Regions from separate parts of the Homo sapiens genome. Here region 1 is linked to region 2. The links come from fine-mapping of genetic effects on gene expression. A gene starts in region 2. The other region holds a variant in brackets. All regions are shown on one strand. Distances are from middle to middle.

The links. PIP is the estimated chance that this variant, and not a neighbour inherited with it, causes the effect.
Region 1: its variant is fine-mapped to the expression of MRPL22 in prefrontal cortex (BrainSeq, PIP 0.95).

Annotation. Positions count from the first base shown.
Region 1 is chr5:154,671,561-154,687,634 of GRCh38, forward strand. It overlaps MIR1303 (microRNA 1303), which reads left to right and starts at 14,216; the gene lies at 14,216-14,301. It also overlaps a transcript of LARP1 not described here. RefSeq lists silencers at 10,989-11,188, 11,229-11,708. The variant T/A (reference allele first, on the strand shown) is at 9,671.
Region 2 is chr5:154,937,476-154,953,502 of GRCh38, forward strand. MRPL22 (mitochondrial ribosomal protein L22) reads left to right here and starts at 3,598. Exons shown (of 7, transcript NM_014180.4): 1 at 3,598-3,663; 2 at 3,742-3,790; 3 at 13,346-13,463. The coding sequence starts at 3,636. It overlaps GEMIN5 (gem nuclear organelle associated protein 5), which reads right to left and starts at 736. Exons shown (of 28, transcript NM_015465.5): 1 at 493-736. The coding sequence starts at 658. RefSeq lists enhancers at 232-823, 415-594, 985-1,034, 3,538-3,697.

The DNA of each region.
Region 1 (16,074 bases), 270 kb before region 2:
GATCACGAGGTCAGGAGATCGAGACCATCCTGGCTAACACGGTGAAACCCCGTCTCTACTAAAAATACAAAAATTAGCCGGCTGTGGTAGTGGGCGCACCTGTAGTCCCAGCTACTTGGGAGGCTGAGGCAGGAGAATGGCGTGAACCTGGGAGGCGGAGCTTGCAGTGAGCCAAAATTGCGCCACTGCACTCCAGCCTGGGCGACAGAGCAAGACTCTGTCTCAAAAAAAAAAAAAAAAAAAGACCAGGCACAATTGGCTGGGTTTGGTGGCTCACCCCTGTAATCCCAGAACTTTGGGAGGCCGAGGCAGACAGATCACCTGAGGTCAGGAATTCGAGACCAGCCTGGCCAACATGGTGAAACTCCGTCTCTACCAAAAAATACAAAAATGAGCCAGGCATGGTGGTGCACACCTGTAGTCCCAGCTACTGGGGAGGCTAAGGTGGGAGAATTACTTGAACCTGGAAGGCAGAGGTTGCAGTGAGCTGAGGTTGTGCCACTGCACTCCAGCCTGGGCAATGGAGTGAGACTCCGTCTCAAAAAATAAAATAAAATTAAATTAAATTAAATTAAGTTAAATTAAATAAATAAAATGGACTTCCCTTATGTCAGTTCCCAATTTCTTTTTCCCTGACATTTCATTGGTCTCTGAAGTCTTGTTGTCCAATAACAATCTACCATTCTTGTCCAACCACCTCATTTTATTTATATTATTATTATTATTATTATGAGTCAGGGTCTTGCTCTGTCGCCCAGGCTGGTGTGCAGTGGCACCATCTCAGCTCACCACAACCTCTGCCTCCCGGATTCAAGTGATTCTCATGCCTCAGCCTCCCAAGTAGCTGGGATTACAGGCATACACCACCAACCCTGGCTAAATTTTTTGTATTTTTAGTAGAGATGGGGTTTCACCATGTTGGCCAGGCTGGTCTCAAACTCCTGACATCAAGTGATCTGCCCACCTCAGCCTCCCAAAGAGCTAGGATTATAGGTGTGAGCCACCACGCCTGCTTGCTTGCTTTATTTATTTATTTATTTATTTATTTATTATTTTTGAGACAGAGTCTCACTCTGTTGCCTAGGCTGGAGTGCAGTGGTACGATCTCAGCTCACTGCAACCTCTGCCTCCCAGGATCAAGCAATTCTCCTGCCTCAGCCTCCCGAGTAGCTGGAATTACAGGTACGTGATCCCACGCCTGGCTAATTTTTGTATTTTTAGTGGAGATGGGGTTTCACCTTTTTGGCGAGGCTGGTCTTGAACTCCTGCCCTCAGGCGATCTGCCCACCTTAGCCTCCTAAAATGCTGGGATTACAGGCATCAGCCACTATGCCTGGCCTATTTATTATATTTATTTATTTATTTTTATTTATTTATTTTTTGAGATGAAGTCTCACTCTGTCACCCAGGCTGGAGTGCAGTGGCATGATTTCAGCTCACTGCAACCTCCGCCTCCCAGGTTCAAACGATTCTCCTGCCTCAGCCTCCTGAGTACCTGGGACTACAGGCATGTACTACCACTCCCGGCTAATTTTTTTGTATTTTTAGTAGAGATGGGTCTTGGCTAGGCTGGTCTCGAACTCCTGACTTCGTGATCCGCCCACCTCAGTCTTATTTATTATTATTATTATTTTTTCTTTTTTTGAGATGGAGTCTCGCTGTGTCGCCAGGCTGCAGTGCAGTGGCGTGATCTCAGCTCACTGCAATCTCCGCCTCCCGGGTTCAAGCGATTCTCCTGCCTCAGCACCCTGAGTAGCTGGGACTACAGGCGCTTGCCACCATGTCCACCTAATTTTTATATTTTTAGTAGAGACGGGGTTTCAATATGTTGGCCAGGATGGTCTCGATCTCTTGACCTTGTGATCTGCCCACCTCAGCCTCCCAAAGTGCTGGGATTACAGGCGTGAGCCATTGCGCCCAGCCTGCATTCCCCTTTGAGATGCATTTAGGATCTTTCCAGATGACTTGTCCAAGGTCACACAGGAGTCAGATGGCCTTTCCACTACCCCACAACACAGATGCATAGTTACTCTGTGGGCTAATACAATTCAGAATTCAGAGCTCTGCCCATGGTCACCGGTGGAATCCACCAGCCATCTCCCTGACCTTGCTCTCCTCTGTTCTCCTCATCTCCAGGGTCCCATGATTCAGGGCGAGCTGGCTTCAGGATGTGGGCAAGAGGGGTTTTAGATGGAAGGGTCTTTCCTCCAGGACAGAATGTTAAGCCACGCCTGGACTTAATTGTTCCAAGATGTCGTTAGAATTGGTGGACAATTTTTTTTTTAATGATTAGCAAAGGACAAGGCTTTTGGTGGTCATTAGTATTGTTTATCAAATATTCCAGTTCTCCACATTCTGGGTACATGGTAGGATGAACTTCCCTGTCTCTTCAGAGTTAAGTGTAGCTCTGTGATGTGCTTTGTCAAAAAAAAAAAAAAAAAAAAAAAAAAAATCAGAGGAAATAACATGTGTCACTTCCAGGTGGATGTTTTAAGAGCAACGTGCAATTTACTACATTTTCTCTTGGCTCCAGGAATGACAACTGGCAATGTTCAAGTTGGTGGCTGCTCTATCAACTTGGACCTGGAGTAAAGACAGCACAAAACAGAGCACACAACAGTCCCACAATGCGTGTTTGAAGCCACTCACTTGAGGGTTGTTACTGCAGCACAACCCAGCCCATCCTGACTGATACAGGTTCATGTCTGGTTAGTCAAAGCTGCCATGAGCCTGGTGAAAACCTATCAAGGCCCATCCTTTTGTTAAACCTGAGTTTGGAGACTCCAAGCCCACTTCCCTGGTCTCTCAGATAAACCTGCTGCAGAGGAAAGAAAGATATTCCTTGGTGGCCCAATTGGAATGAAAAATTTCAGGATTGAGAAGGCAGGGGATTCTTAGTCCTGAAAAGGCATTCTATGTTAGACAAGTTAGAGGCTGAGTGAGTTATTTCCCAGCTGAACATCCTTGGGCTGGTGGAAGATTAAATGAAGTACACGCATCAAGTGCCTAGCATAGCACACTGTGAGCTCTGGACACAAAGATACTCACGGAAACCTTGTCGTTAATTAGAAACCAATAATCCAACAGTAGAGGAACAGTTAACTAATTATGGTACGTTCATGTACTGCTACATAGCTAAAAGAAGGGGGAAGAAAGGAAGAAGGTGGGGCAATGTAATATGTAGGTTATGATAGACCATTGTTAAGTGAAAAGAGCAAGTTATCAAACAGGTTAGCTTTGGAAACAGACCCAGAATTGAGTCCCAGCTCTCCTAGCTGTGTGTCTTGGGCAAGGCTCTTTTTTTTTTTTTTTTTTTTTTTTTTTTTCTGAGATGGAGTTTTGCTCTTGTTGCCCAGGCTGGAGTGCAATGGTGCGATCTTGGCTCACCGCAACCTCCATCTTCTGGTTCAAGCGATTCTCCTGCCTCAGCCTCCTGAGTAGCTGGGATTACAGGCATGCACCCACCACCACCCCCGGATAATTTTGTATTTTTAGTAGAGACAGGGTTTCACCACGTTGGTCAGGCTGGTCTTAAACTCCCAACCTTAGATGACCTGCCTGCCTCGGCCCCCCAAAGTGCTGGGATTACAGGTGTGAGCCACCATACCTGGCGAGCAAGGCTCTTAACTGCTCCAAACTTCACAGACTGGCAAAAACAGAAGCTCAATAAATGTGAGCTATTACTTTATTGTTGTCATTATTAATAATAAATCTATAGGTCAACGTTGGCTGGGCACCTGACTTCCATTATCATAGCTCTGCGATCCTCTAATCCATCTCCCCCATGACCTTGTGAAGTTGATCTTAATCCATTTTACACACAAGAATACTGAGGCTCAGAAAGGTTAAGCCAGTTGCCCAAAGTCCTCAAGTCAAGAATAGGAGAGTTAAGATTTGAATCCAGTTTTGTCTGGTTGCAAAATTCACTCTCTTAACCATTGTTCCCTGCTGGCACCTGGCACAGGTAATACACTTTCATTGTCATAGGATTGCAGGGCTTTGTTTCTGATGGAGTCAGGGTGACTTTGAGACAGGGTTTCACTACCATTCCCTAGGCTGGAATGCGGTGGCACCATCTCAGCTCACTGCAACCTCTGCCTCCCAGGCTCAAGCGATTCTCCTGCCTCAGCCTCCAAGTAGCTGGAACTACAGGCACACACCACTGCGCCAGCTAATTTTTGTATTTTTTTGTAGAGATGGGGTTTCACCATGCTGCCCAGGCTGGTCTCGAACTCCTGAGCTCAAGTGATCCAGCTGTCTTCACCTCCCAAAGCGTTGGGATTACAGGCGTGAACCACCACACTCAACCCATCCTGGGTTACATGACTTGTAAAGTCATGCCTCCAAGGGAACACCACAGACAAATCCAGGTAAATAAAATTGTTTAGTGAGCAGCTCTCAACTTTTGAGTGCTTACAGCCCACTTTTCAGTACTTGCAGCCCACTTACTTTCATGATAGTAAACAAGTCAGCAATGATGAGCCCTGTGATAGCCAGCCCCCAAGATGGCCTCATGATCTTCACCTCCTGGTACTCACATACTTCTATGGTCCTTCCCCACAATGAGCAGGGCTGACCTGTGTTACCAACAGGATATTCAGGAACAATAGTGCGTAGCTTCTAAAGCTAGGCATAAAAGACAATGTGGCCTCCACCTTGTTCTCCCTGGCTCTGGAGGAAGCTCACCTCCATGATATAAGGACATTAAAGAAGTCCAACAGAAAGGTCCACGTGGTACAGAACTGAGGCCTGCTGCCAACAGTCATGTTGGTGCACCATCTTGGAAGCAGATCCTCCAGCCCTACTCGAGCCTTCAGATGACTGCAGACCTGGCTGACATCTTGGTTACAACTTCGTGAGTGACCCTGTGCCAGTAGCACCCAGCTAAATCACTCCTGAAATCCAGATCCACTGAAACTGTGAGGTAATACATATGTATTGTTTTAAGCCATTAAGTTTGGGGTATTTGCTACACAGCAATAGATAACTAATAACTATATTATGACAGTACAAGGAAAAAAACTGCCTCGAATATATTTTTTTAAAAAATGAATTATCACATGGTCTCCTTTGTCCCCTTTGGCACATGGGTTGGAAGAACTAACCCTTCCTTACAAACCATCCTCTCATATGTACTCACCTGGACAATTTCTCACAGCTCTTGATAAACACACCACCTTTCTTCTGCATCAACTCCAGAATAGGCCTCCCATCTATCCTCTGACTTGTAGCAAGTGAATGCCTTTTTGTACCATTCTGACAGTCCAATTCCAACAAAAAGCACTAGAACAATATATAGCCTGGATTGTAGCAAAAATAAATTTTATGTGCTAGTAAAAACTTGGCAAGGCCAGGGGTGGTGGTGCACACCTGTAATCCCAGCACTTTCAGAGGCTGAGGCAGGCAGATTGCTTGAGCATAGGAGTTCAAGACCAACCTGGGCAATGTGGCAAAACTTCATCTCTACAAAAAATACAAAAATTAGGCCGGGTGCAGTGGCTCACGCCTGTAATCCCAGCACTTTGGGAGGCCGAGGTGGGTGGATCACCTGAGGTTGGGAGTTTGAGACCAGCCTGACCAACATGGTGAAACCCCGTCTCTACTAAAAATACAAAATTAGCTGGGCGTGGTGGCACATGCCTGTAATCCCAGCTACTCAGGGAGGCTGAGGCAGGAGAATCCCTTGAACGCGGGAGGCAGAGGTTGTGGTGAGCCGAGATCGCGCCATTGCACTCCAGCCCAGGCAACAAGAGTGAACTCCGTCTCAGAAAAAAAAAAAAACAAAAAAAACCCAAAATACAAAAAGTAGCTAGATGTGGTGGCACACGCCCTGTAGTCCCAGCTACTTGGGAGCTGAGGTGGGAGGATGGCTTGAGCCTAGGAAGTCAAGGCTGCAGTGAGCTGAGATCATGTCACTGCACTCCAGCCTGGGTGACAGAATGAGATCCTGTCTCAACAACAAAACCAAAAAAAGGCCAGGCGTGGTGGCTCATGCCTTTAATCCCAACACTTTGGGAGGCCGAGGTGGTGGATCACTTGAAGTCAGGAGTTTGAGACCAGCCTGGCAACATGGTGAAACACTGTCTCTGCTAAAAATACAAAAAATTAGCTGAGCGTGGTGGTGCGTGCCTATCATCTCAGCTATTAGGGAGGCTGAGGCAGAAGAATCGCTTGAACCTGGGAGGAGGAGGCTGCAGGGAGCCGAGATCAAGCCACTGCACTCCAGCCTGGGTGATAAAGCGAGACTCCGTCTCAAAAAAAAAAAAACAAAAACGCTTGGTGATACCTTTTGGAGTCCGTCCATGAGACCACAGCCTACCGTGCTAAGTGGTTTCATCAATAGCTGTAAAAGAAAAAAATACTTCACTTCCTTGAGCCCAAACCCCTCCTTCTGCTCTAGTCAGGGATGTGGGGGTTCTGTCCTCTCAACACAATCTTCTTCTAGGCCTCTGACATCTATTCAGGACAACCAGCTAAAGAGAAGCTCCTCCTTCCTATGGTGAAATCTGCTTTCAGTGGAGAGGAGCAGATAGTGAGACTTCACAGTGGCAGTACTCTGGTTCAGATTCAGAGTTGCTGCTTCTTAGCTCTGTCACCCTGGGTAAGTTACTTAACACCATTGTACCTGAGCTTCCTCTTCCCAGCTACGGAGCTAATAATAGCACTTTCCTCATAGAGTTGTTGAAGAGACAAAACAAGAAAAGGATCGTCCAGAGTTTAGCACATTGCTTGGCAATTAGTAAGAGCTCATTCTCCTTTTATTGTTATTCAAGAATAATAGCAATAGACAGGCGTGGTGGCTCATGCCTGTAATCCCAGCACTTTGGGAGATCAAGGCAGGAGGATCACTTGAGCCCAGGAGTTCAAGATCAGCCTGGGCAATAGAGCAAGACCTCATCTCTACTAACAATTAAAAAAAAAAAAAAAAAATTGGCCAGGCGCAGTGGCTCATGCCTGTAATCCCAGCACTTTGGGAGGCCGAGGCGGGCGGATCATCTGAGGTCAGGAGTTCAAGACCAGCCTGACCAACATGGAGAAACCCCGTCTCTACTAAAAATACAAAATTAGCTGGGCGTGGTAGCACATACCTGTAATCCCAGCTACTCAGGAGGCTGAGGTGGGAGAATCCCTTGAACCTGGGAGGCAGAGGTTGTGGTGGTGAGCTGAGATCGTGCCATTGCACTCCAGCCTGGGCGACAAGAGTGAAACTCTGTCTTTAAAAAAAAAAAAAATTAGCTGGGCATGGTGGCACATGCCTCTAGTCCCAGCTACTTGGGAGGCTGAGGCAGGAGGATCCCTTGAGCCCAGAGTGTTGAGGCTGCAGTGAGCAGTGATCACACCACTACACTCCAGCCTAAGCGACACAGCAAGTCCCTGTCTCAAAAAAAAAAAAAAGAATAGCAATGATGATAGCTACTAGGCTGTGTGTGGTGGCTCACATGCGTAATCCCAGCACCCTGGGAGGCCCAGGCGGACGGAACACCTGAGGTCAGGAGTTCAAGACCAGCCTAGCCAACATGGTGAAACCCCGTCTCTACTAAACAAACAAACAAACAAAAATTAGCCAGGTGTGGTGGCATACGCCTGTAATCCCAGCTACTTGGGAGGCTGGGGCAGGAGAATCGCTTGAACCCAGGAAGTGGAGGTTGCAGTGAGCCAATATCACACCACTGCACTCCAGCCTGGGCAACAGAGTGGGACTCTGTCTCTAATAATAATAATAATAATAATGGCTGCTATTTAGTAAGCGCTTACCACATGGCTAGCATCCTTTACATGCACTATCTCATTTAATCTTGAGAGACAGGGCCTCTTACTTTTCCCCATTTTAGAAATGAGGAAGCTGAGGCACAGAGAGGTGAGGTGCTTTGCCCAAGATTACACAGACTCACGTAATCAGGTATAGGAGCCCTCACCCTTAACCACCTTGCTCTGCAGCATCCCAGGAGGAATGGAGCAAAGGGCCCTGTAAACACTAGGAACACTGCAGGGATTGAGGAGAACAGAAGGGGCAGAGTGAGGTCATGCAGTAAAGGAACAGTCCAGAGGAGAGACTTTCCCAAGTGGCAGACACAGCGGTGGCATGGAGTCCTCTGTGAGCACCACCATCTGTCTGTCTTCTCTGTAGTGGGAGTGTTGGACCTCTTGTGTGTGTGGTAGAGCCACCACACTCTCTAGCACCTGCTCCCCAGGACCCTGAGCTGCTACAGTGGCAGGGTCCCGCAGCAGCATGGACGCCCTGCTGAGGCCTGGGTTTGGACATGCCAAGAGCCCTGCTGACAGCTCTGCCTTGCCCTTCCTGAATTCCTGCCGTGGTCACAACACAGCACTGGCTCATTAAAATCAGGGTCTGCCAGAGGGGAAAGCCAGGCCATTTCATTTGCCAAGATGCAACAGCATAAGATGGCTGGACACGGTGGCTCACATCTGTAATCCCTTCGCACTTTGTGGGGTGGAGGAGGGCAGATAGATTGAGCCCAGGAGTTCAAGACCAGCCTGGGCAACATGGTGAAACCCCATCTCTACCAAAAATACAAAAGTTAGCCAGGAATGGTGGCATGTGCCTAGTAAGCAGCTACTCAGGAGGCTGAGGTGGGAGGATCCCTTGAGCCCGGAAAGTCAAGGCTGCCATGAGCCGTGATCATGCCAGTGCACTCCAGCCTGGGCAGTGGAGATATAGTAGCATAAAATGGGACCAGTTTTGGCCCAACACCATCGTGTGGTGTTCTTGCTCAACCAGGAAAACAAACTCACAGAACCAGCAGTGTCCACAGCTCTGGGCCAGAGAGGGTCAGCAGGTTCGGGGCACTTCTCCTCCAGGCTCTGACCCCAGGGAACTCCTGTGATTCAAATAATAATAAGAGCTATAGAGGTGTCTATCAGGCCCCAAGCCCTGTGCCTTCTGTGCCTGGGAGACAGAGAGGTTGAGTTGCTAGGAAAGGTGGCCCGGCTAGTAAGCCTTCTGTTGACTGTGGCAAAGACAAGGGGCTACCTGCACGGTCATGAAGATCACCGTGAAAGAAGAGGGACAGCTGAAGACACTGGACAAGGTGGAGTTGTTGCAGCCCCTCAGAAAACACTTACATGAGGGGAGGCAGGACAGTGTAGTGCTGTGGCTCTCAATCTCAGACGATTTTGTCCCCAGTGGACTTCTGGAAATGTTTAGAGACATTTTGGTTTGCATATCTGGAGAGGGAGGTGCTATTGGCATCTACTGGGTAAACACGAGGGATGCTGCTAATTATGCTACAATGCACAGGACAGCCACCCGCAACGCTGAATTATCTGGCCCAAAACGTCAATAGTGGTTGAGAGGGCATGGGGCCTCAGAATCCAACAGGGGCATCACCAACAGGGCTTAATCTCCTGCTCCCCCTCTGTAAAACTGGGGATACCAAATTTCTGCCTCACAGAGCTGACCTATTGCCTGTTAAGTGCTTTCTGCAGGCAGGCTCATAGTAATGCTCCACCATTGTTGCCATGTTCATTACCAAGGATGTGCACTCTGCAGAAGAGCACTGACCAGGTAGACCCAGAGAAGGGCCATGAGAGAAACTGATCCAACGCTTGAGAGGGCGGAAGATGCCAGAAGAGGCCGTGATTACCCATTCTGGCATTCAGCGCTTTCCCTGGTCTTGTTTCAGCCTACTTTGCTTGCCTGGCCTCCGGC[T/A]GCTCTGGGTGGTCTATTCAGTGGGCCAGCACACATGCAACTTCTTCCTGTGTCTACCGTCCCCACCTCACAAGAACCTCTTCCTCCAAGGAGCCGCCTTGACCAGCCCAACCCTTAAGAATCACATAGCCCTTATCACAAATGGATCGACAGGGTGGCTACAGAGATGCTAGACACAATCATATCCATAAAGACTCTGAAAAACAGACATACATTCTCAATTATACACACAGACACACACATGCAACCTCAAGATGCCCTGTAGCCCTGGTCACAGACTGATCACAAATGTATTACCATACACATGCACACACACAAATATCCAAGCATAACACGATCTCAGACAGGAGTCCCGTATACACATACACATTTATACAATACTGGCACACACAAAAAACCCCCACACATACCCCCCAAGGATATGCTGTCACATTCACAAACTCATAAATTCACATAAATATGCATATTTAAAACAAACTCAGGAAAGCCCATAGGTCTTATACAGTTAACACCTAGGCATATAAAGATACACACCTGTCCATATACACAGAAATGTATTCTTGGCACACGACCTCATATACAGCTATTAATGTGCTTACATACATAAGGCATACATATATACACATTATTCAATGACACATACACTCCTATATATTCACCCAAACACACATATGTAACAGACATACAAAAAGACATTTAAAAAAATTCCATTTGTCCTCTTCTATACACACAGATGTACTCCCATAGTACATTTTATTCATTCATCATTTATATTACAAAACATTGCTAAGGAAACTTCCTTGGTGTGACTTCCAAATTCAACCTTGTGTTATAGCTACTTGTGTAGACTAGCAAAAATGCATCGAGTAGGCTCATTTCTCCCTTTAAATTTCCACTTGCGGATACGCCTTGTGGATTTGCTTTCTCCCCTGCAAGCCCTCACCTCTCTCTGTCCCCCTTTTTTTTTTTGAGACAGGGTTGCCCAGGCTGGAATGCAGTGGCACGATCTTGCCTCACTGTAGCCTCCGCCTCCCAGGTTCAAGTGATTCTCCTGCCTCAGCCTCCCAAGTAGCTGGGACTTCAGGCGCGCGCCACCACGCCCAGCTAATTTTTGTATTTTTAGTAGAGACGGGGTTTCGCCATGTTGGCCAGGCTGGTCTTGAACTCCTGACCTCAGGTGATCCGGCCGCCTCGGCCTCCCAAAGTGCTGGGATTGCAGGCGTGAGCCACCGCGCCCGGCCCCTCTGTCCCTTTTTGACTGCCCAGTCCCCCAGGCCTCCGCTGGAAGGCGCTCACTAAAGGTTCAGAGTCCGAAGCCGCATTCCCGGGCACCCTCCCCGGCCCCTCCCATCCCACAGAGGCAGGGGTGGGTCCGTGGGTGTGGCAATGAACCACGTGTACCCACGGGACTCTCGAAGTGGGGGAGGGGAAGGGGCGCAGCACGCCACCCTCCTTTCTCCGCCCCTGCCCTACCCTCTCCGCTGTTCCCCCACTGTCCTCCCCCAGCCCAGCCCAACCTCAGCCGGCCGCGGGAGGAGGCGGGAGCTGGGGCTTCGAACTGCCCCCTCCCACCTCCGCCTCTCCCCCGTCTCCTCTCCCCCTTTCCTCTTTCTCCTCCCCCATCCCACTTCTCTCTCCTTTTCCTCTTTCTTTCTCCCCTCCTCCCTCCATTCCACCCGCCTCCTTTTACCCCGCCCTGCCAGTCGTCCTCCCCCTCGCCCCCTCCGCCTCCCTCCAGCTCCGCCGCCAGAGGCTGAGTCATCGCTGCTGCGGCGCTGCCGGCCGTGCTGGGAGAGCAGGCGAGCAGGTAGGGAGGGTGTGAAGCAAGCGACGCCGTGCGACCCGGCACCACCGTCTGGGCCCTTTCCCGGAGAGGCCTGGGGAGGGGGCACCGAAAGGGGCCCGGGCCGCGGTGGGGGACGGGCGACGGGCCCCGGAAAGGCACAGATCTTACCCCTCAACCCCCATCCTTACAGGAGCCGCTTTGCAGCATTCTCAGCCGCACATGCAAATTAATACCTAACATTAGGGTGGCATCTGGGCCAGGCAAGTCAAACTGACGGCCCACGGACAGATCTGGCCGGCACCTGATATTTATTTGGCTCACACAGTGTTGTGTTTGTTTGTTCTGAAGTTTTAACTATTAATAGTTGCCAATACTTAAACATCACTCATTTCTTGGAAAATCAGATTCCCAACTCAAAAAATTAGAATATATGTCAACGTATTTCCCATGATAACTCTAGCCTATTTCTGAGTGGGGATACCTTTGTGTAGTCAGGGCATTGCACCCTCCCTACCTGCTCGCCCTCTAGTTTGCCACAGTCTCCGCTACTCCCTACTGTTTCACCTAGGCCACTGAACTTCCTTTGTGTTTCCTGCCAGGCCTCATATGGAATGATTCCTAGTCTAGTCCACCCCATTCATATTTTACATGGGGATTAGGAAGTGAGGGTAGGGCATTTCCCAAAGTCACATGTGGCCTTAAAGCTGAAGGGGAACCCTGCTTTTCCTCACCCACTAATCTTTTCTACCAAACCATTCTGACTCCTTTGGTATGCAGGCTAACATAGGGAATTCTTTTGTGAAAAGTGTGTTCCAGAAAATTATCTGGGGATCAGAGTAGACCTCAAATGGGAGATGATTTGGAGCATACAGCACCTCGTCTTTGGAGTTGATGGTAGCTTCTCACAGTCTTTCCCTTGGAGTGGAAATAGATGACAAAACTAGGGTGGATAGATGAATGGAACAGTTGGCCAATCTGGTATATTTGGTTATAAGAAGTTGTTTTCGGGTCATTGGAAACCTGGCTTATGAGACACTGTTGCATAAGGGCTACAAAGGCAATATGCCACTTTGCTTGGATTATTCTCTAGTCTAGTGCTTCTCAGCTCCTAATGTGTACATGATTCCTGTAAAGTGTAGATTCTGACGTGGCACGATGGCTCACACCTGTAATCCCAGCACTTTGGGAGGCCAAGGCAGGATAATTGCTTGAGCCCAGGAAATTTGAGACCAGCCTGGGCAACATGGTGAGATCCCTATCTCTACAAAAAAATTAAAAATTAGTTGGGCGTGGTGGCCTGTGCCAGCTACTTGGGAGGCTTAGGCAGGAGGATCCCTTGAACTCAGGAGGTGGGGACTATAGTAAGCTGTGTTTGTGCCCCTATACTCTAGCCTGGGCAACACAGTGAGACCCTTTCACACACACACACAAAAAAATTGTAGATTCTGATTCAGTAGGGCTGGATGGAACGAACCCAAGATCCTGCATTTCTGACAAACTTCCAGGTGATGCCAGTGTTGCAGGCCCCTAGACCCTCCTGCCTTTGAGTAGCAAGGGTGTGCACTCCTTGCGCTTCCGGTCTATTCATGGGTACCATTGCTGCATGACGGCCAAGAGAAGGGGTTTGAAGTCCCACAGTGGACTTCACAGTGGATCCCAGCCTACCCCTTAACAGTCAGCTAACCTTAGGCCAGCTGCTCATCCTCTCTGTGCCTCCATTTTTTCATCTGTTCCATTGAAATCAAATAATACTTCCTTAGGAGCATAAAAAAGGCAGAATGAATGTATGACCCCAGCACAGTCTGTGCCTCATGGCAGGCCCTCTGTAAAGATAGTTTCTACCATTGTGCACTCTCTCATGGGCAGTGAAACCCAGAAATGACGTGGTTAGGGAGTGGGATATGGAAGGGATATGGAAGGTATTTCAGGATAAGAATTGTACCCCTTGGCTGGGCGCGGTGGCTCATGCCTGTAATCTCAGCACTTTGTGAGGTGGAGGTGGGCAGATCACAAGGTCAGCAGTTCGACACCAGCCTGACCAACATGGTGAAACTTCGTCTCTACTGAAAATACAGAAATTAGCTGGGCATGGTGACGCGCACCTGTAATCCCAGCTACTAAGGAGGCTGAGGCAGGAGAATCACTTGAACCCGGAGGGTGGAGGTTGCAGTGAGCTGAGATCGCGCCACTGCACTCCAGCCTGGGTGACAGAGTGAGACAACATCTCAGAAAAAAAAAAAAAAGAATTGCACTCCTTAATGTGGCCTTCTGAGCCATGCAGGGTGGTCACTGCCCAGCCTACCCCTTAATGCTCTCCTACCTCTGTCCATGCTTCCACCACAACGGCCACCTATTAGGTCCTTTGGCCATGGTACCTTCTCCCCTCAGAGGCCTTGCACATGCTGTTCCTCATATTCCAAGCTGGCTGGCCCCTTCTTATCCTTCAGTCTCAGCTCCTATGTTACTTCCTTGGGGTGCCTTCCCTGATCTCAGAAGTCTAAGGGTTTAGCGTAGAAAGTGGGGAGCAGGGAACATCTCTTTGGGCTGCATGTACATAGGGAAGTCACCGTATCTACTTAGATTCTAAGTTTATTTAAAGCAGCTTTGGATAGGGGTGAACTAAACGCTGCCTCTGCTAGTCTATACGATGCCTTTGTGCAGATTAGAAAAAGGGGTCGGGCACAGTGGCTCGCACCTGTAATTCCAACACTTTGGGAGGCCAAGTGGGAGAAACACTTGAGGCCGGGAGTTTGAGATCAGGCTGGGCAACATAGCGAGACCTCAACTCTACAATTTTTTTTTTTTTAAATTTTAGAGACGGGGTCTTGCTCTGTTGCCAGGCTTTGTGCAGCATGTAAACTGTACAGCCCTAAGTGGGAGCCCTACTGCTAATGCTTCCCCAAGCTACCTCGTGATTCGGTTAATCCTCCTTTGCCTGGATTAAGTCTCTTTTATAAACTTTCTTAACCCCATAAAACTCATCACAATTGGGATTAGGTATCTAGGGAGTTATTTATTTAAAATCTGCCCCCTACACTAGACTGTACTGCATCAAGGCAAAGACATATCCATCTTGTTCTAGGCTGTATCACTAGTGCTTAGTACGGTTCCTGCACCATAGCAGGTGCTCCACAAATGTTTTCTGGATATTTCAGGAGCTCATTCTGTACCAGGAAAGCTAAGACTCTTACTGAAACAACTGTGGGCATAGGATGAGACAGGCACAGAGCTAAATGTGTGGTGCAGCCCCAGTGAGGGAGATGTCACTTCTGGCTGCGGGGATGCTCCGGAAGAGGTGGTGTTTTGGCTGGGTCTGACGGAACAGATGGAGTTCATTAGACTTAGATGGGTGGGGGAGTGTTCTTGGCATTGGGAATAGCAAAAGCAAAGGTGCAGAGGGAAAAAAGTTCAATGTGTTCCTAAGACAAGTCACAAATTGTGATCAGCAGAGTGGCCAAATATGTTTTGTGAATTACCTGCCAATATTTATTTTAAAATCAGGAGATTTCACATAAAGATCCAGATTTTCCAATTCTCTTGAAAAATCGAAAGGTCCCACCAGGTAGCAATAGACTGGCACTGAGAAGTGGCCGTTCGTTTTGAAGGTGTGGGCTTACTCCAGTTTGCCACAGTCCTTACCTTTCCCAATTGCATCACACCCAGCTCTCTTCACTCATTACTGTCCCTTTCTGGCTTTGGAGATGGCCGACAGACTGTTTGATTGGCACACATGGGAGTTGTAAGGAAGATTGGTTCAGATCCTACAGACCCTTAAATGCCAGCTAATTAAGTAACCTGGTAACTGCAGGGATTGCAGGGGTCTTCTCCAGTCCCATGGATCACTGTCCAAGTATCCCTTGGCAGAGCCATGCCTGACTTCAGAAGAAGGAACTTCAGGCCAAGAAGGCTGGTGAAGTTCTGGAAACCAAGGAAGCAGAGAGCTCTGCATGAGCCTTTCCTAGAGAGAAATCAGTCTCTGTCTCTCTTAGACCGACCCCTCAGTCACAGCATGGTGCTGTGATTTTGCCAAGAGGCAGGGGTGGGTCTGGGGGAAGATGGACGGTGCTTCCAAAAGGCTAAATTTTAGTCTCAAAGGTTTCTGATTGCGGACACATAGGTGATATCTAACTTGCTTTTGTTTAGCCTTGAATATTTTCAAATATAATCTTCAATATTTCTGTTACAATATTGTAGCTTGCTTCTGTTTATAAAAATAATGCAGCATTTGAAAAAAAATTGGAGAACATAGAAAAATAAAGATGAAGATAATAATCTGTAGTAATCTTCCCACCCAGATGTAACATGTTAACATGTTGGTGGATTTCCTTATGTTTATTTTTTTCAGTGTATTTATACTTTTGTGTGTTGTGTGTGTGTGTTTGTGAGACGGAGTCTCACTCTGTCACCTAGGCCGGAGTGCAGTGGCGTGATCTCGGCTCACTGCAAGCTCCGCCTCCTGGGTTCACACCATTCTCCTGCCTCAGCCTCCCTAGTAGCTGGGACTACAGGCACCCACCACCACACTCGGCTAATTTTTTGTATTTTTAGTGGAGACGGGGTTTCACCGTGTTAGCCGGGATGATCTCAATCTCCTGAACTCGTGATCTGCCTGCATCGG
Region 2 (16,027 bases):
CTCTTATTTAGATGTGGCCAGAATAAATCACCTGGCATGTCATATCCTAAGGCACAATCAAAGCCTAGTTTGGAGCCTGAAAGCATCTGGTTCAACCCATTCATCTTACAGTAAGGAATGCCACACGTTGCAGGATCTTGCTTAGGGCCTGCAGCTGTGGTTAGCCCCCAACCCCAGGAAGGCTCCCGGGGGGCTGGCGCGCACCAGGCTGGGCAGGGGAGCCATATAAATGGCCGAGACTATACAAGGCTAACTTTTCAGTAAGCAAGCGGCCCCACGTGGAAGCTCCAGGAGGCGGGACCGCTCGGCCACAGCATGGTGTAGCTCATTAGGAGACCAGAAGCAACTCAGCTTAGTGACTGTGGGCTGCCTCTCCTCCCAGCCTGGGCCTCAGTTTCCCTAGCTGTAGAAAACGGGGTGGAGTCGTCCACTCGGCGCCCCTGGGGAGCGTACAAAGGGCAGTAAGTCTCGGGCCCAAGGGTGGTGAGTTACCTCGAAACGGGGGTGTCCCTGGACTCTCGCCTGCGCCCGGGCCCACGCGGACAAGGAAGACGGAGGTCCGCGCGGCGAAGCCAAAGAGGCCCCCGGGCACGGCATCGCTGCAGCGGGCGCAGTACCAGTTGGGGGAGGGCGGCAGCGTCCGCGGCTCCTGCCCCATAACTACAAGCCGTCAGAGACAAGAGAAGCTGCCACAGCCGACCGCTCGTAGCCTCACGCCTTAGGTAGGGAGCGGGGCGGGGTGAACTCCGAGCCCCGCCTTCTCGGGCAGTCGCTACGGTGCGCGTCGAGGCCCAGCCAGCACCGCGCGTTGCGTTCCCGCTACCGCCGGGCTGGGAAGGGCGGGACCACGCGTGCTGCACTGGCCCTCAGTACCTAGCCCGCGGTAGGAGGTCCGCCCCAACCCTGGCTAGGGTCAGGTGCTGCCTGAGCACAGCCCCGAGGTTAAGCATTCTCACTTCCCACAGAAAGGCACAAAATTAGAGGATTAGACTAGTGGAACCACCGCCCCAGGCTACCAGTTTATTATTTGGAGCTGTTCAACCACTATCCCGTCCAACGTTTTTTGAGCGCTATGTGCCAGGGCACTTTGCTAGTTGTGGAGGTGTTTTAAAGATATGCACAAGAGGCCGGGTGCGGTGGCTCACGCCTGTAATCCCAGCACTTTGGGAGGCCGAGGCGGGAGGATCACGAGGTCAGGAGTTAAAAGACCGGCCTGGTCAGCATAGTGAAACCTCGTCTCTATTAAAAAACAAAAATAAAATAAAATAATAAAATAAGCCGGGTGTGGTGGCAGGCGCCTGTAATCCCAGCTGCTCGGGAGGCTGAGGCAGGAGAATCGCTTGAACCCGGGAGGCGGAAGTTGCTGTGAGCGGAGATCACGCCACTGCACTCTAGCCTGGCCACACAGCGAGACTCCATCTCAAAAAAAAAAAAAAAGTAAAATGCAACAATCCCTAGACAACAAATACTAGGGAGGCTGAGGCAGGAGAATCGCTTGAACCTGGGAGGCGGAAGTTGCAGTGAGCAGAGATTGCGCCACTGCACTCCAGCCTGGGCGACATTGCGAGACTCCATCTCAAATAAAAACAAAACAAAACAAAAAAAGATATGCACAAGAGGCCACTTAACAAAAATATTGTTGTACCTGAGTGAGTTAGAGAAAACGCCACACTTTGAGACGAATTAAGAGTCCATTTGTTTAGCCGGTGGCCAAGAGATGGCTAACGCTCAAAGTTCTCTCAGCCGGAAGAAGAGGCTAGATTTTCTTTTATACTTTGGTTTAGAAAGGGGAGGGGAGTCTAGTTAAAACAATTTTACAGAAATAAAGTAGGCAAAAAGTTAAAAGGATAAATGGTTACAGGAAAGTAAACAGTTCCAGGTGCAGGGGCTTTAAGACTATTTATTACAAGGTGATAGACTGGGGGCTTTGGGTGCTATCAATCAGACGAATTCCTGGGAATTGCGGATATTGCTCGCCACAGTATCTTATCAGTTAATTGCATCTTGGATGTGCTGGGAGTCAGCTTGCACAAGTTAAGTTCTTGAGGAAGGGGCTGCCAGTGAAAGAGCCAAGATGGAGTCTGTCTGGCTCTCTTAGCTAAGCAAGAGTCAATTCAAGTGGAAACAAGGCTAGGTGATCAGAGGAAAAAGGGAGAGTCTAAAAACAGGGTTAGTAAAAACAAGGTTGGGCATTACAATATGGAGTCCGGGAGACAGGCTGGTGTGAGCTGTGATCGAGCCACTGCACTCAAGCCTGGGCAATAGAGTGAGACCCTGTCTCAAAAAAACAAAACAAACAAAAATATGAAAGTACGAATCTGGAATTAAAAAGGGAAAGAACAGTTTCTGCAACTGGGTGGAAATTCTGGCTCTGGGTTCTGGGTACTCAAAGATGAAGGAGAAGCAAATGGAGTGACTCTTGATTTGCTTGATTGAGGGCCAGCTGTGTGAAGGAAGCTGTATGTGGTAAATGGTGTGGAAGAAAGTTTCCTTTCAACTCAAAAATGCTAAAATGCTCAGATTCTGCACTACTCGTGTGTTGCTTGTTTGCATTGGGTATCTGACATTCCTGCATAGGTAGCAAACCGCAATCTGAACTACCTGTTATTCTAATACAGAGGGGTCAAATACATATATTTGAAGGCGTCTAGGGGCACAAATTTGGAGGCACCTAGTCGTAGATTGATCACTGGTTTGCCAGTTGTTAGTTGAGAGACTTTAACATATCCTAAATATGTTTCCTCATTTGAAGAAGGAAAATGATAATCCATGCCTTGTTGGATTGCTGTGAGGAATAAATGAGATTTAGTGAAATACCTGCCTGACATAAGGCAGTAAATGCCAGATGAATATAAACTCATTCTTGAAGGTCAACCAGATTAGTAGGGATTAGGACAGCATACATCATATTTGAACTATTTGCTCTTTAAAAGAGATTTTAGGCTAGGTTTCGTGGCTCATACCTCTAATCCTAGCACTTTGGGAGGCCGAGGAGGGCAGATTGCTTGAGCCCAGGAATTCGAGATCAGCCTGGGCAATTTGGGGAAACTCCTTATCTATAAAAAATACAAAAATTAGCCGGGCGTGGTGATGTGCGCCTGTAGTCACAGCTACTTGGGAGGCTGAGGTAAGAGGGTGGCTTGAGCCCGGGGTCGAGGCTGCAGTGAGACTAGGTCATTGCTACCACACTCCAGCCTAAGCGAGAGAGAGACCCTGTTTCAATAAAATGAAATAAAATAGCTTTCACACTATTTCAACTGATCTTTACAACAAGCTTGTGCCCTAAGGTTAGTCATTTCTGATAAGAAAACTGAGGACCACCGGATTAGGTGGCTTGTTCACGGATTCTGTTCCCCTACTCCTTTCTAGTTTGTGAGTTGGGACTTTAGTTTTTCTGAATCCAGGTGAATTTTCGGAAGCCCACGTGCTTTCGGCCTTTATTAATTAATTCATTCCCAAGCCAGGTTCGCCTGACCACACCTCGAGCGCCGGCCCAGTGCTTGCGATCTTCGTGACGGCACCTGGGGTGTAAGTACTGCTTGTGGGAGAGCCCCACAGGAAATCCAGAGTATTGCGCATGCGTGCTGTCCAGAAGGCGCTTGAACTCGGCGGCTTCCGTAGCGGGAGGGCGAAAGATGGCGGCGGCAGTACTGGGACAGTTGGGTAAGGATTTCTTAGTGGTTAAGCGACAGAAGGGAGTCGAGATGGAATCTGAGTTGACGGCTTGTGTTGATGTTGCAGGTGCGTTATGGATACATAACCTGAGGAGCCGGGGGAAGCTGGCCTTGGGGTGAGTCTCTCGCTTCGGAGTTTCGGAAGGGCCCAAGGCATCTTTAGTATTCTGCCAGTTGGTAACTGAGCGCCTCCGTGCCTAACTGTGTTTTAGGCTCTGGGGTTACTGAGGCGAATGAGACAGCCCGAGTCTCTGCTTTGTCACTCTATTTTTTCTCCACCTTATTGCATAAACTGTACAGGGATCAGGATTACCCATAACCCAAGGGCGATTGTAAATGCGATTTCCGAACGTCTACTGTGATCTTTCTGGACAAGGTTAGACTATTCCATCTCCATATGGAAGCGTCCAACTTTTCAAGTTACCTCTCTGATTACTTGCTTACATGGGCAGGGACCGTGTTGTGGACAACTCTGCTTTACGTCGTACCTGACATTGTGTTTAGCGGTTTATATGCTTTAACTCACTCTCATAACATTCTACGAGTAGGTTCTGCTATACCCGTTTTTCAGACAAGGAAATTGAAGTCCCCAAACGTAAAATAACTTGCCTAAGGCCACTCAGTTGTAGGAAATTTTGAAGCTTTATACCAGAGCATTCTGTAGCCTTAGGACAAAAGCATTCATTAAAGGTTAGGGTAAGTAGTCGCTGTATTTCTCCCCAAAATAAAAAATCGGTATTTGAAAATTGATAATCTGATTGTAAATTTTCTGGTCTGTCCATTTGTTAGCATTGATTTTGGTTTAGTTCATAGGCTTTGCAGACAGATGAGTTGTATATGAATCCATTTTTTAACTGTGATCTTGGAAAAGTTACTTATTCTTAATAAGCTTCAGTTATCACTTTTATGATATGAGCGTTATGTTAGTACCTATCTCTTAGGATTTAAAAAATTTTTTAATTTTTATTTATTTATTTTTTTAGATGAAGTGTTGCTATGTTGCCCATGCTGGTCTCAAACTTAAGGGCTGAAACAATTCTCTTGCCTCAGCCTCCTGAAGTACTGGGATTACAGGCACATGCCATCTATGTAGCTCTAGTAGATTTTAAAAAGGAAATTCAAACAAGATAATGCATATGAAGTATTTAGTATGTTTATGGCATGTGATAATCCCACTCTGAATTCTAGTTGCCATTAATGTTTTTATTATTATAAATTATTACTGAGTTCCCAATTATATTTAACCCTTTTCTAAGTTTTTGGGTCCGAGGGGGATAAAGAGGTGGGCTAAAGAAGAAAATAGGAAGTAGTAGCTCTTAGGATTTGTCTGTACTCTTCTTAGATAATCTTCTATCACTCTTCCCCCAACCATGCTGATTTACTTACTTTTTCTGAATATACTTTGCACTTACTTGCTTCTTGGCTTTTCCTACTATGCCCTCACATCTTGTCTATAACAGCAGTCCTACCCATTATTCAAACCTCTGTTCAGATGTTTTCCCTTCAGGAAGTTTTCACTGGTTTCTCTAAAACGGAAAGAAATTAGTTTTTCCTTCCTTTTAGCATGTGTGCCTTCTATGATGACTTCATGTATATGTGTATGTGCCCTTTACTAGCTTGTGTATCTTGGAGAAGTAGGGACATTTATTTATTGTTGTACCTCCAGCATAAGGTCTTACACAGGCAAGTATTTTGATGTTGATTTGAATTGTCTTGCACCAACTTGTATTAAGAAGCTCTGAGCAAGAAACTTAAGCAGTTTGCCTTTAGTCTTTTCCTCTATGTCATGATACAAGAGTGTTTGATTTTGCTAGATAATCTCTAAGGCTATTTGCAATTCTGAAGTTATTACATAATTTTGTGAATCCTTATTTTGGATTTTCTAGTGGGGAAAATGACCATAAGAAAACTAAGTAGAAAGGTATAAATAATGTTCATGATAACCATGTAAAATTTTAGCATATAATCTGATTCAGTGATGAGAAACTTTTTTTTCCTTTTTTTTTTGGAGACACGGTCTCGCTCTGTGCCTAGGCTGAAGTGCAGTGCTGTGATCATAGCTCACTGCAGCCTCAAACTCCCGGGCTCCCACCTCAGCTTCCTAAGTAGCTAGAACTACAGGTGCATGCCATCACACCTGGCTAATTTTTAGGGTCTTGCTGTGTTGCTCAGGCTGGTCTCTAACTCCTGGGCTCAAGTGATCCTCCTGCCTTGGCCTGGAGGGATTACAGGCATGAGCCGCCAGGAAACTTAATTGCATATAGGCCCCAGACTAGAAATAAATAAACTAAGGGAAGTTGTCTATGTAAAATGAGAGTGGGAGGGCCTGTGGTGGTCAGTAGAGTGTATTCCTCATCTAAAAACATTGAATTAGGTTAAGAAAACTGCTGCTGACCAAATAAAACATTTCTGCAGGATATATATATATATACACACATATATGCACATATATACATATATACACATATATATACATATATACACATACATACATGTATATACACACACATATATATATAGATATTAAAATTTTTTTTTTTTTAAAGACAGCGTTTTGCTGTGTCACCCAGGCTGGAGTGCGGTATCATGATCATAGCTCACTGCAGCCTCGATTCAAGCCATCTTCCCAACTCAGCCTCCCAAGCAGCTGGGATCACAGGCGTGCACTACTACACCTGACTTTTTTTTGAGTTTTAGTAGAGACAAAGTCCTGTTATATTGCCCGGCTGGTCTGAAACTCCTGGGCTTAAGTAATCTCCCACCTCAGTCTCCCAAAGTGCTGGGATTACTCTGTAGGCTATATTTGTTAGCTGACTGACAGTTTTCAGTTTTTGAATTCCAAGTCTCCTATTTTACTGATGCATACATTTGAGAAGTTTTGTGACTTACTGAAGGTTACACAGTTAAATGTCAAAGTGAGGATCTAAACAAAATATTTTCTGGGACTACAGGTGCAGGCCGCCATACCTGGCTAAGTTTTGTATTTTTAGTAGAGATGGGGTTTCACCATGTTGGCCAAGCTGGTCTCAAACTCCTAGGCTCAAACGATCCGCCCGCTTTGGCCTCCCAAAGTGCTGGGATTACAGGCATGAGCCACCACGCCCAGCCAAAAAAATATTTTTTTTTAGGAGACAGAGTCTCACTATGTTGTACAGGCTGGTCTCGCACTCTTGGGCTCAAGTGATCTTCCCACCTCAGGCTCCCGAGTCTCTGGGATTACAGACGTGAGCCACCAAGCCTGTCTGTACCACCCTTTAGATGGGGGCATATCCTCTTAAGCTTTCCTCAGTTTCCAACCATGTGTAAAATTTTGGCATAGTTATTTACACTCAGTCCTCTTACCTTACCTGTCTCTGTATTCTTTCATTGATTCTACAAATATGTATTTAGTGCCTGCTCTGAGCTGGGAACTATTCTAGCACTGAGGATTTTGCAGGGAACAGGAACAGACAATAATCCCTTGCCATTGTGGGGTGTACAATATAGTAAGGGGGGCAAATAAGCAAAATAAGTAAAATATAGAGTATATTAGATAGTGACATCTGCTTATGAGAAAATAAAGCAGAGATTGAGAATAAGAAGTATGTGTGTTTGAGAGAGGAACTTGTAGTTTTAGATAGGGAAGGCCTCACTAAAAGATAATCTTTGAGTAAAGATTTGAAGGAAATGAGGAAGCATGCTGTGCTAACATCTGAACAAACAGCATTCTGTGCAGATAGAATAGTAAGTGCAACAGCTCCAAGGAACCATATCTGGTGTCAGGAACAATGACAAAAAGGAGAGGGATAGTGATAGGAGATGAGGTCAGAGAGGAAGGGGCAGTCATAAATCATATAGAGCCTTATTATTTTTTGTAAATACTTTGGCTTTTATTCTGAGCAAGATGGGAAACTGTTGTAAGGTTTTGAGCATGGAGTTATATGATCTGACTTATGTTTATGAGTGGTTCTTTCTGGCTGCTGTGTTGAGAATAGACTGGGGTGGGGATGGGGAGCAAGGATGGAAGCAGAGACCGTTGGCTATTTCAGGTATGAGATCATGGTGGCTTGGATTAGGGTGGCCGTGAAGGTAAGTGAATGGTTGGATTCTGGCAGTATGTTAACCACACCTGACAGATCTTGTTGATGCATTGGATGGGAGGTGTGAGAAAGAAGGGTGACACCAAAGTTTATGACCTGAGCAACTGGAAGGGTAGAGTTAACCACTTACTGAGCTAGGAAGACTTCCAGAGGAGCAGGTTTGGGGAGAATATTAGTAGGTCACTTTTGGGTTTGTTAAATCTGAGCTGTTGTAAGCATCCAAGTAGAGATACGAGTAGGCAATTGGGTATATGAGTTTATAGAGTTCAGGGAACGGATGTACATTTGGGAGTCATCAATGCATGGATAATGTTTAAAGCTGCAAAGCTGGTTGACTTCACCAAGGGAGTGAGTGTAGATAGAAAGAGTCCGAGGATTGATTCCTGCCTAAGGCAGCCAATATTACAGACCAGGGAGGGAGACAAGGAAACAACAAAGGAGACTGTGGGGGAGTGGCCAGAGAGGGGAGAAGAAAACCCCAAGTGTCCTGGAACCCAATTAAAGAAAGTGTCTCAAGGAAGAGTGAGTGACCAGAGATACTTAGGTCACTCTCAGATGAGGACTGATAATTAGAATTAGAATTTGTCTGTATTTTCTGTTTTAAGGTTGCTTCATTTTGTTTTAATTGAGTGTTATTCCAGCAATTGGCCAGGAGAGGGCACATAGGAACTTTTGATTTGATATTCTGTGCTTCTAAATTAAGAACCCCATTTGGAATAATACTTTAATTTAATTTGATTATAGTAGTTTGGTCTTTGCTTGATAATTCAGTTCATGAATTATTTGAGTCCTGAAAGTATTATAAGAATTCAGAAAGCTTTGACATTATTAATTCATAGTATGTTTAATTTATGAAGCAACATATTTAATTCACCAAATATGTATTGAAGATTTGAAGAGCGCAAGGTACTGTGCTAGGCGGGTACAGCAGGTATGGGCCTGACTCAAGAAATCTTTCAGATTGGTTTGTAGCAAAGGGGTTCATGTTTCTGTCATGCTGTTGGTGATGAGATTAGAGATAGAATTAAGGTTAGGAGAGGCCTTATAGATGATGTAGTCTAATTCCTCTTTTCACAGACAAAGAAACCAAGGTCCAAAGAGGTGACAAACATAGTGTACCCTACTCGCTAATTACAACTACATAGAACCATAAACGTTTATGATTATAAACTTGAGAAAAAACTTTGAAATTGTGTATTTAAAGCTTACAGTTCACAGGACTTATTTGGGGGCTGGGGACAGGAGAGATTAACTGTTCAAAGGGCCTAACTTTGTTTTATTTTTTATGCCCTTAAAAAAAGAAACACGGGTGTGGTGGCTCACACCTGTAATCCTAGCACTTTGGGAGGCTGAGATGGGTGGATCACCTGAGGTCAGGAGTTCAAGACCAGCCTGGCCAACATGGTGAAACCCCGTCTCTACTAAAAATACAAAAATTAGCCAGGTGTGGGGTGCGGTGGTGCGTCCCTGTAATCCCAGCTACTTGGGAGGCTGAGGCAGGAGAATCGTTTGAATCCAGGAGGCGGAGGTTGCAGTGAGCTGAGATCGCACCATTGCATTCCAGCCTGGGTGACAAGAGTGAAACTCTGTCTCAAAATAAAATAAACAAAACAGAGGCAAGGCCTTGCTATGTTGCCCAGGCTGGTCTTGAACTCCTGGCCTCAAACAGTCCTCCTATCGTGGCCTCCCAAAGTGCTGGTATTGCAGGCGTGAGCCACCATACTTGGCCAAAGGGCCTAATTTAAAAATAACACTAGCCATCAGTGTTTATCATGGGCTAGACATTGTAGGATGCACTAAATTATTAATCCATCAACAGTATTAAGTAAGTATTATTTTCCTCATTCTACAAGTAATAATATCTAAAATTTATTGAGCCCTTTTAAGTGTCAGGTTAAGTATTTTACTTGCATTTGAGCTTCTTAAGAAGGCTATGAGGTAATTATTATTAGTCTATTTACTGATGGGAAAACTGAGACCCAGAAAATTATATGACTTCCCCAAGGCCATTCACCTAGTAAATTAGAGTTAGGATTTAGACCAAGGTCTGCTCGACTCTGTAGCCTCAGCTGTCACCACTCGGCTTATTTTAGCAAAATAGGCCTTCATACATCATGTATCCTAATTTTGTGCTTTTCAGTTAAGACATTGGAACCTAAATGTGGATGGCAAAGGTATTGATTTTGTTAGGTATTTTGATGGCACTAATCTTGATATTAGGATAGGAGATAGTGAACTTGGGGTAAAAATGATACACTAGAATAGATTTGTTTGAGTCTTTGGTCTAAATGGCTTGAAGACTAAAAACAAAGGTTTTGTTTGCCAAGTAAATCATCCAAGTTGCATATTTGTATGAGAATATGCCAATATACAACCACTTTGAGTATATAAGTCTGAGTTAAATGTTTACGCAGTATCCACGTACCAGACATTGTTCTTGGTGCTAGAATACAAAGAAAGTCGGACTTGCCCTTTAAATGCTCAACATCTGTACACTTAGTACAATAACTCATTCTATTATAGCCACTTACGATAGTACAGTGGTCTAAGTCATTGCTGTATGGCTGGCAAGAACAAAGTATTAAGACAACGCGAGAATCATGATCAGATAAGGGATTAGGTGATGTTTCACATTGAGGTGACATTTGAGCTAGAACTTAAAACAGGATAAGCATTTCATTCAGGAGATAATAAGACGAGAAAACAATTTGAATAAAGGCTTGTTCAGGGAACAATGAACATCTATGTGGCTAGGCTATAAGGGCAGATTGGGTCTAGATTATGAAAGGCCTTCTATGTCTCGCTAAAGAGTCTGGACTTCGTATTGTGGGCAGTAGGGAAATACCAAAGTTTGCTGTGTTAACTTTTTATTTGGATATGCCCAGACATATACAAAAGTAGACAGTTTGATGAACCTCCATGTATCCGTCACCCAACTTCAACACTTACTACTTATGGCCAATGTTATTTATAACCTGTACTCTCCCTCATCATATTTTGAAACACTCCCCCCACTGTATCATTTTCATAAATATTTTACTATTATCTCATTAAAAAGCATTAAATATCCATTTGATATTTAAACTTCCAATGGCTTCGTAACTGTCATACTTTATAATAGTTCACACATTGAAACTAATTGATATTTCTGTTAAATCTCTTACTCTGTAGGTTTTTTATTCAACCCTCTCTTTTTTTTCTTGTAATTTATTTGTTGGAGACAATTGGTTGTTTTGTAGCGTTTTCTATACCTTGGATTTTACCGAGTGCATCCCCATGATATTACGTAACATGTTGTCTTTTCTCTGTGTTTCCTATTTTGAATCTAGGGGCTTGAGCCCCCAGTTTCATTTTGGGCAGGAAAGACTACTTTGTGGATGGTGGGTGGTGTGTTCTTCCATAAGGAGGCACATAATGCCTCCTTTATCCATTAGTTTATTAAGGATTATAAGATGATGCTATAATAATTTGCTATTCCTTCATTACTAACTTTATACAAGTCAAATTTTTCCTCATCTACTACTTGGAAACTTAATGGTACAGTTTGTATAGGAAAGACAGGATAAGTCTTGTCTTTTTCTTCATTCTTTCTCTTCATTCACCAGTTTTCAAAATAACAAGTTGGCTCACTAGCATTTTCTAATGGTAATTAATTTGTATTTTTCCTGGTTTTATTATGAACTTATGGCTTTAAACATATTTGATGTGTTTCAACCCACTACAATTATTGTCCTGATTAATGCTTGGCTTGTCCCATCTTTGGCTTGTTGGGCATCCACAAGTTGGCTCCTGAGTGCCTTTGACATGACCTTGGTAATCTTTGATGGCTTCTTTGCTTTCTGATATGACAAGATGTTCTGGGCTCATTTTGTATGTTATCTGCTTGAGATCTGCAATCAGCCATTTCTCTCAGAAGTTTTGGTTCTCTTCAATAGGAAATGGTATTTCAAGACCGTAATCTGGGAAGTAGGGGCACTAATTGCTACTAGATTGTTCATTGCTTCTACACCTCTTCAGTGGAGAGATCTAGTACTTATTGGATTTTGGCTGAACCTTTTCTGCTTATTTCCATACCAAGAATCCCAGTAGTCAGTGACACTGAAAAAAAAGGATAGCATTAGAATATTACATAACTATTCATTTGCTTATTTCAATAGACGTTTTTAAGCTGGAGGATGACATGAGTAGCTCTGAATTATAGAAGGGTAGCTCATTTGGTACTCAAGCAGAGAAAGATGGATTGGAATTGGGCAAGTTGATGGAAGAGAAATCAATCTAGAGGCTATTGCTATATAGGATGGTGGCAATTAGAATGGGGAAGAGGTAAAGCATTTGAGAACGATTTCAGGGGAATCTTTATTTTATCTGTAAGATTTGGTGACTAGCTCTGGCAGGATGAAAATCATTGGGAAGTTGAAGATAAACTCTAGAACACCATTCAAGAGTGATTTTATTTAGTGATATAGGGGAGTAGCGGATGCTGGGGAAAATGGGAGAGGGAGAATGACTAGTTGTATATTATTAAAGCAGTTAAAGTGTGGGGGAAGAGGTCAAGGAATAGTGAATTTGGGATCTTCATCATCAAGTCTCAGCCTATTAGTTTAGCATTCAAAGACAACCACTCTAGCCTCAATGACCTTTCCAATACTTAACAAATTCTCTGACTCAGTCAGACCTCCCCTTATTTCTCAACTCTGTACCTCTGCATAGATGATATATGTCGTTGCCCCATTCCTCTGATAATTAGTGTATTAGTCCATTTCACACTGCTATAAAGATACTACCTGAGACTGGGTAACTCATAAACCAACAAGGTTTGATTGACTCACAGTTCTGCGTGGCTGGGGATGCCTCAGGAGACTTAGAATCATAGGGGAAGGTGAAGGGGAAGCAGGCAACTTTTTCACAAGGCAGCAGGAGAGAGAGACAGTGCAGGGAAACTGCCACTTTTAAACCATCAGATCTCATGAGAACTCCCTCACTATCACGAGAACAGCATGGGGGAAACTGCCCAGCGATCTAATCACCTCCCACCAGGTCCCTCCCTCAACATGTATGGATTACAATTGAAGATGAGATTTGGGTGGGACACAGAGCCGAGCCATATCAATTAGGAAGTTCAAGATTCACCTGAAGTCACCTCTGAAATCCTCTGCTGTTTCCCATATTTTAGTTATGTGGTTTTATATTGTCTTCTAATTGTTTTGTGTTTTTGTCTTAGTTACTCAACAAAGTTGGGCAATCTTACAGGTCAGATCAGAGAGCTCATTATGTCTTCTCTAAATCTTTCTTAGGAGTGGGTGACTTATAGAAGACAGTGTTATTGGCCAGTCAGGGCAAGAAATCTTGGGTTAATATCTATTAACGGTTTGACTTATGTGCGTTTACTTTCTCTCCTGTTAGCCTCTAATAAACTGTCTCTTTGTTGTGTTTAAAAGTAGTCTCTATTAATGAATACCTCTAGAATATTTCCAGTTGTGATCCTTAAATTGTTTTCATCAAAATGGAGCTGAAGTGGTTCAAAAGATATGTAAACTCTACAGAAAGGTCCCCTAAGTGTCTGTTGTTTTATAGGCTTCTTTCATTTCACAGTGTTTTACCTCAATCATATATCCACACAAGTGCTTCTCTTGACATTTCTCGAAAATGGGAGAAGAAGAATAAAATTGTTTATCCTCCACAACTGCCTGGAGAACCTCGGAGACCAGCAGTAAGTTCGTGGGTAGAACTAATCTCTTAATTGTGGTAGTGCTCTTACTCTTAAGTGATTAGTAATGATTTATTATTCTGTGTTAAAAAAATTATACAACCATTCACTCTAATTGACAGAGAAGATGTACTAGATTTATCTCTTCAATAGTTGAAAAAGATTGTTATTCTTTACTTATTTGTCTTTACTTAACCTCCTGGATAGGGACCTTAACTCTAAAACTAAGCTAATAGTTTAAGACATACTGATTTTTGACTCTGAGAGGCTTGCTGATGAGCTCTTAATGATGGAGCATGTGGAGTTGGCAAGAATGACTTAAACTATTGGCCAATGTTTAAATTATGTATATGATTTTCCAGTGTTATATATTTGAATATAGACACACTGTTTTTTGTTTGTTTGTTTGTTTGTTTGTTTTGCAATTTGAACCTAAAGTTTGAACTTAATCATTGGGTTCCTACTGGAGATTTATCTTATCGTTATCTGCACAGAATAAACAAATAACTTTTCAACTTTCATATTTTGTCATGACATCACAACTTGAAAGATTTGTCAGTATAGGCTATTAAGTATTGACTCCATTTTGTTTATTTTATTTTATTATTATTATTATTTTTGAGACAGAGTCTTGCTCTGTCACCCAGCTGGAGTGCAATGGCACGATCTTGACTCACTGCAGCCTTCGCCTCCCGGGTTCAAGGGATTCTTCTGCCTGAGCCTCCGGAGTAGCTGGGATTACAGGTGCCCGCCACGATGACCAGCTAATTTTTGTATTTTTAGTAGAGATGGGGTTTCACCATGTTGGCCAGGCTGGTCTCCATTTTGTAATTAACCAAAATTGACTAAATGAAACGTTACACAATTGCACAAATATCATAAATAAAAATTTTTCTGTAACTAATGAACTTTTTTTGCTTCTTACCTGAGCTCTTTGAAATCACGTATTTTTTTTTTTTTTTTTTGAGATGGAGTCTCCCTCTGTCGCCCAGGCTGGAGTGCAGTGGTGCAATCTTGGCTTACTGCAAACTCTGCCTCCCGGGTTCACGCCATTCTCCTGTCTCAGCCTCCCGACTAGCTGGGACTACAGGCGCCTGCCACCATCCCGGCTAATTTTTTGTATTTTTAGTAGAGACGGGGTTTCATCGTGTTAGCCAGGATGGTCTCGATCTCCTGACCTCATGATCCGCCTGCCTCGGCCTCCCAAAGTGCTGGGATTACAGGCGTGAGCCATCGTGCCCGGCCTGAAATCAGGTATTAATTGGAAATAAATTACAACAGTATTTGTCAAGTCCAGAATCTATAACAGCACAATTTTGTTATGTGTTTGTTTTGTTTAGTATCTTTAGATACTAAAAAAATGTACTTTAGGATATATCCCAAGTGGCAAAATTCAAATAGTTAGTAGTATGTCATCTGCTTAACTCTAGCAAATGATGAACACTATCAATACAGTAATTTGTTGTGTGTTATATTTAATGAAACTATTTTGATTAACTTTTTTGTATCATTTATCCTTCTTATACAAGTGCCTGTGGGAAGACATTTAATTTGATTTGATATAGGTACTTTGGAAAACCTTAATTTCTCTATTTTGCACAGATTTTGTTTCAGTAATCCTTTGGGGGACAAATTATGACATCTGGGAAATATGAACATTTTCTGACTTTAAATAGTATTTAGTAATTTAATATTGGTACATCAGTTGTACCTGTTATGACTGGGAATACCGATACCCTTCATAAATACCTAACTTACCAGAAATAATTTATTCACTGGCCATATAGTTCATAATACTGCGCTATAATATACAATGTCCCTTAGAATTTCCAATCTGCCAGCTGCAGCCATTATTAAAATTAGTTTTATCTCTAGCTGAAAAGAGGGCCAGATAATATCTACCATTCTACCTAATTCTGATCTTCTGCATTAGAATATATAGTCAATAAATAACAGTGGATGGGATAGTGAGCAAAACCCGTAGCAGTAAATAAAAATGAATGTTACCAATGTAGAGTTGTTCTAGGCTACTCCTCATATTTTTAAGACTAACTTCGTAGTTTAGCTAGCACCAATTTCCAAAGAATATAGATTCTTATGTAGATTTTATCTTATATGGGGCTTCATATGAAGACAGTGAAGGCTGGGTGTGGTGGTTCATGCCTGTAATCCCAGCACTTTGGGAGGCTGAGGTGGGCATATCACAAGGTCAGGAGTTCAAGCCCAGCTGGCCAATATGGTGAAGTCACATTTCTACTAAAAATACAAAAATTAGCCGGGTGTGGTGGTGCACACCTGTAGTCCCAGCTACTGGGAGGCTGAGGCAGGAGAATCACTTGAACCTGGGAGGCAGAGGTTGCAGTGAGCTGAGATCGCACCACTGCACTACTTCAGCCTGGGTGACAGAGCGAGACTCCGTCTCAGGAGAAAAAAAAAAAAAAAAAAAAAAAAAAGAAAATGAGCCAGAGAGAAATTAAATGGCTTTCTTTATGATAGTCACACCTTGTTAATTTGGGCTTCAGTTTCCTTTTGCAGTATCTTTGAAAAAAAGCTATGTTAAATAAATG